Regions from separate parts of the Homo sapiens genome. Here region 2 is linked to region 1. Evidence: fine-mapped expression QTL. A gene starts in region 1. The other region holds a variant in brackets. All regions are shown on one strand. Distances are from middle to middle. Region 1 holds the start of IL17RD (interleukin 17 receptor D). Region 2 overlaps IL17RD (interleukin 17 receptor D).

Evidence for each region.
Region 2: its variant is fine-mapped to the expression of IL17RD in iPS cells (HipSci, PIP 0.95).

What each region holds. Positions count from the first base shown.
Region 1 is chr3:57,164,075-57,166,984 of GRCh38, forward strand. IL17RD (interleukin 17 receptor D) reads right to left here and starts at 1,279. Exons shown (of 13, transcript NM_017563.5): 1 at 1,087-1,279. The coding sequence starts at 1,212. RefSeq lists silencers at 1,058-1,397, 1,418-1,467.
Region 2 is chr3:57,124,728-57,127,637 of GRCh38, forward strand. The region is part of intron 1 of IL17RD (interleukin 17 receptor D); the gene reads right to left. Among named protein-coding and RNA genes, the nearest start is that of IL17RD, 39 kb to the right of the region's middle. The variant T/C (reference allele first, on the strand shown) is at 1,557.

The sequences.
Region 1 (2,910 bases):
CCCAGCAATACTAAGGAAATTCTCATTTCATCCCATTTTTCATATGAAGAAATTGAGGCTCATGGCTCCCCAGGAGCAGAGCCAAGGTCATGTCCCTGCTGCCTGAGTGCAAAGCCTACGTTTTCTCCACAAGCTTAAGGCCGTGAGTGCCCTGACGCCGGGCCCACCCGGGCCTCGGTGGGAGACTCGGGGCAGACGGACATCATCTCCAGGTTCTGGGGCCGCCCAAGGCCAGAAGCCCAGGTAGGGAGCAGGGAAGCTGAGAGGGGAATGGCAATCACCCGCGCCCATCGCCCAGACAGTGTCAAAGGAGCGCTCGGTTCCACGAAGACGGCTCAATGCACACGGCGAAAGTCTGGGCACCTCTCCAGTCTCGTCTCAGGCACCTCACCCAGATGACACCCACGCGGCCCTTTGGCGGAAAAATATCCGCAACTCGAAGCAGGGAAGGAGGATATCAGCCGCGAGACCTTCACAAGACGAAGGGCTGAACCGGGAGGCGAAGTTTCTCAGGAGGTCCCGGAGTCAGAGGAGGGGTAGGAGTGGGGTGACGGCCCCAGGCGAGGAGGAACAAAGCTACTAGAAGAGCGGGGCGCATCCCTCCCCGGTGCTCCAAGTCCCCTCTCCGGCCGCCCGGGCCTTAGCAGGGTTGTGGACTGAAAGTCCGGGAGAATACCCCCTTCCCTCTCCAAAGCGCAACCCGGTCCGGGTGGCTCGGGGGATCCCAGCCCGGGACACGCAGCCCTGGGACGAAGGAGGTCCCGGGCCAAGAACAAAGGGTGGGGCGCCCGGCCCAGCCCCGCCGCCCCTCACGCCCGCCCTCTGAATGGGACCCCGGCCGGCGGCCGCACCTCATTAGCAACACAAAGCCGGGGTCGGGCAGCCGCTTTCATCTCGGCCAGGGCCGGAGGACACGCGTCCGGGGAGGGAAACCAGGAGGATGCGCGGGAGGAGTGAGACCCAGGCCGGCCGCGGACCCCGCGAAGAGCAGACAGGTTGGCGCGGGCTCGCCTCCCCGCGAGCACCTGTGCGCGCTGCGTCCCCCGCGAGTTGGCGACGGCAAGAAACCCGCCGCCCTCGCCTTACCCTCCAGCCACAGGTGTCGGCGCCCCGCGCGCGGCCGGACCCGCCAGCGGCCACAGCCAGCTGCGAGCCGTTGAGGCAGGCGTTGACCGTAAAGAAGACGGAGCAGAGCTGCAGCCACGGGGCCATGGCCGTGCGCTCGCCCAGCCAGGCCGTTCTCTGCGCCCCGGCCGCCCGCCGCTGGCCAGCCCCGAGTGGGCGGTGGCCGCGGCGGCCGCGGCGGCAGCGAAGGGGACCGCACTGGGCATGCGTTGCCAGCCCGGGCCCCGCCCCCACCCTCAGTCCTCGTGTGCTGGCCCCGCCCCCACAGCCTGGCCCTCCAGTTGTGGCCCTGCCCCCGTAGACCACGCCCCTCTGGTCACGCCCCCCAAGCCCCCACTGAGACTCTGGCAGCCGCAGTTTCTTCCCCCTCACTTAGTAGATCTTTTTTTAATCCAAAGGATTTGTCCAAGTGATGCTCACTCTATGCAAAACCTGAGGAAAACACAAAGAATGTAATAATAATAATTTTAATAATAATTTAATAAACACCTGCTATGTGCCAGACCCCTTTCTGTATACGCCCAACCACACAAGGAAGTGTATTATTGTTATCCCAGTTTTAGGCGCAGAAAAGTTAGGGGAACGTGACAGAGAAATCCTGGCTCCACATTTACTAGTAGGACTTTGGACAAAAGGCTTGCTGTCTCCACAATACTTCCTCACCACAACCCCCCGTCCCCCTCACCCTCCTGGAAGCTAGAATAAGTATCCTAGTCTGGGGAGAGTTCTGTTGGTTGAAACATAACAAGTGCTCCATAAAGGCTACAATCTATCATTAACTGACTCTCATAAGGTCACACAGCTGTTACCTGCCAGACCTGAGATCCAATCCAGACCTGACTAAAAACAATACTCTCAGCTACTACACTTGTCAAACATAACCTCATGAAGTGGATATTATTTCTGTTTGGAAGAGGAAACTGAGGCTCAGAGAAGTGGAGTAGCCCAAGCTATCCAGAGTTTCACCGCACTCTTCCCAGCGCTTTGCCTTTTATCTGAGCACCTAAACTCTCCCACTTTGTCCCTCTCCACTACCCCCTTCCTCAAGAATACCACCTCCTCTTCCTAAGGGCTTTTTCTACTTCTGACTTTGTCCCCGTGTCCGATACATTTCTCCAGCCTGGATCCAAAGTTATCTTCCAAAAACACAAATCAGACTACTGACTTATCCCAATTAAAACTCTAGGCTGAGTGCAGTGGCCAATCCTAGAGGATCGCTTGAGTTCAGGAGTTAGAGGTAACAGTGAGCTATGATCCTGCCAACCGCACTGAAGCCTGAGTGACACAGTAAGACCCTGTCTCTAAAAACAAACAAACAAACAAACAAACAAACAAACCTACCACCACCACCACCAACAAAAAAAAACAGTAAAATTATGTGTTCTGTGTTTGGAGGAGGATTAATAAAAATAAAATCAATAAATAAAACTGTTCTATGGTGGCTCTTATGCAAAGGCCATTTAGAATAAAATCCATACTGGCTTTCTCTTCCACTCTGTCTTTACCACCTGGCTCCTGCTGCACAGAACTCCCCCCAGCCCCAGCCTTATCTTGGTCTTTTTGCCTCAGGAAACCTTGGAAATTGTCACCTCCGTCCATTCAACAGGGCAGCCTCCTCTATATGACTCTCCTTCCAGGGCCCAGAATCCCCTCCCTCTCCTTCTCTGGCCTGGCCTAAGCTCAGCCACTGCTAACACAGGATTCCTGCACTTTCTCTTGTGGCTTGTGTCTCCACCACCCTGCCCACACGTCCTTGGAGGGCTTAAGTGGAGGAAGAGAACTCTT
Region 2 (2,910 bases), 39 kb before region 1:
TGGTAATTTATTATAGAAGCAACTGAAAGCTAATATACACTCATATAATTTCAGCTGCAATATGGATAAAATAGACCTCCATGTCACACACACGGCACGTGCTGTCATTCCTCCACCCTGCCCCCCAACACCCGGAGCTGATCCCTGTCCTTGTGTTCTCCCCAACCCAAGCTTCAGGCAGGCATAGAACATGCACCCATCAGAGCTGCCGCTTGAGATTCTACTGTCCTAGATGTAGGCTTCTGTGGGCTGACCTGGGGCTGACCCCCAGAAGTAGAAAAGTGGTTAAGACAGTTGGTTTTGGAGTTATGCAGATGTGTGTCTAAACCACCAGCTTTCCAGCTGTGTGACTCTGGGTAAATTTCTGAACCTCCCTGAGCTATAAAGTATATGAATAGGCTGGGTGCAGTGGCTCACACCTGTAATCCCAGCACTTTGGGAGGCCAAGGCGGCCGGATCACCCGAGGTCAGGAGTTTGAGAGTAGCCTGGCCAACATGGTAAAACCCCGCCTCTACTAAAAATACGAAAATTAGCCAGGCGTGGTGGTGGGTGCCTGTAATCCCAGCTACTTGGAAGGCTGAGACAGGAGAATTGCTTGAATCTGGGAGGTGGAGGTTGCAGTGAGCCAAGATCGCGCCATTTCACTCCAGCCTAGGCAAAAAGAGTGAGGCTCCATCTCTAAAGAAAAAAAAAAAGTGTTTGAATAAAACTTTGTGGAAAGCATTGTGTGAGATGACATATATCAAGTGCTCAGCATAGCATCTGACACACAATAACCTCAGAAATGTTTAGGTCATCCTTCCCAAGAAGGTTACTGCCTCAATAAGCAGGTGAGAGTTGTACTGCAGGACAAGTTACAAAGAGATAATGAGGAAGACTGGAGAAAGGTCACAGGTGGTGCATTTCCTAGGAGTGATCTGTCTTCTGCATCCAGAACCTTGGAGGATTGTGGAAGATAAGACAGACAGACAGGTCAGGGCAAGGTATTGGTAGGCACTGATCACCAGACTAAAATGCATTCAACAGATGGTCAAGGAGGCCTAGTAACTCCAGTTTTGTTAAGGGCATAGGTTGGATTGGAAAAGGAGAGGCTGAAGACAGAGTCGAGGAGGACAGCCCTCAAAACCCCTGCCTACAGTCCTGGGCCTGACACATAGTCCTTGATAAGTATAAGTTTTCTGCCTGAATAAATGAATGCATTATTAAGCCAAGTAATATACCCCAAGAACCTAGCTTGGTGTTACACTGATTTATGGGCTTAGAATGAGGGCCCACACTAAGAGAAAACAGATAAGGCAACTTACAAGGCTGTTGACCAGCTTTGTAAACTGTTCTTCAAGAAACAATCCCAAGCTTTTAGCTACTATACCATTTTTGATATTTAATGAGCTGACGATTAAAAATACTTGTTTGTTGCCTGTTACTTGAAAACTATAAATGCCAATGCAGTGGACTCAGGGTGCCACATTCTTAGTTAATTAAGCACCCCCATTTGCTGCACTAACGGGTAGCTTTTAATTTGTTCCAAAGGGAGCTAAGCAGCAAGCCCCGGCTG[T/C]CTGGAGTGCTGCTATGAAATTCCTTTGGTTGGTGCTCTATGGTCAGTAGGGACGGAAGCAGCAAATGGCAACATAATGGAGAAAACATCTTTAACTCAGGAAGGGAGGGGAGGATAACCCTTAAGTGCTCTAAATGAATAAAATTCAAAAGCTAAAAACCCACACCATGCTCCAGCCATATATGGCAAAGAAGCAAAGGCCTGGATACAGAGAGGCCGGCAGCGGAGCAGGATCCACAGGCAGCAGCTAGGGGCAGCCATGAAGGTGATCAGACAGCCAACTTCCTGAGGGGCCTTTGGGCATTCTAAGCCATTTGAAGACACTAACTTCCCAGAGCAACATTTCCAATTCACCTCCAGCATAGCTTAACTGCCATTTTGGAAAAATGCATTTCAAGAACTGTGCTAAATATAGCGCCCCTCTTCCAGTGGAAGGCAGGCCAAACTTTCAAATCAAGTAAGGAACTTTCAGAAAGCCAGTAATGTTTTAGTGAACAGAGTTAGAGTGAAAATTTAAATAAGAGCATTTGCACAAAGAATTGAGAAGACTTTTTTTTTTGAGGCGGAGTCTTGCTTAGTTGCCTAGGCTGGAGTGCAGTGGTGAGATCTCGGCTCACTGCAACCTCCGCCTCCCAGGTTCAAGTGATCCTACCCTCTCAGCCTCCCGAGTAGCTGGGATTACAGGTGCCCACCACCATGCCTGGCTAATTTTTGTATTTGTAGTAGAGACAGGGTTTTGCCATGTTGGCCAGGCTGGTCTCAAACTCCTGACCTCAGGTGATCCACTCGCCTTGGCCTCCCAAAGTGCTGGTATTACAGGCATGAGCCACTGCACCCGGCCGGAAGATGGGTTTTTTTAAAGGTACACCTAGTAACTACTTAAAACTAAGGCCAACTCATATATATATATATATAAATATATATAAAAATATATATAAATATATATAAAAATATATAAATATATATATAAATATATATAAATATATATAAAAATATATATAAATATATATAAATATATATAAAAATATATAAAAATATATATAAATATATATAAAAATATATATAAATATATATAAATATAAATATATATATATAAATAAATAAATAAATAAATATATATATATATATATTTTTTTTTTGAGATAAGAGTCTTGCTTTGTCGCCCAGGCTGGAGTGCAATAGCGTGATCTTGGCTCACTGCAGTCTCCACCTCCTGGGTTCAAGAGATTTTTTTGCCTCAGCTTCCCAAGTAGCTGGGATTACAGGCGCCCACCACCATGTCTGGCTAATTTTTGTATTTTTAGTAGAGACAGGTGTTTCCCCATGTTAGTCAGCCTGGTCTCGAACTCCTGAT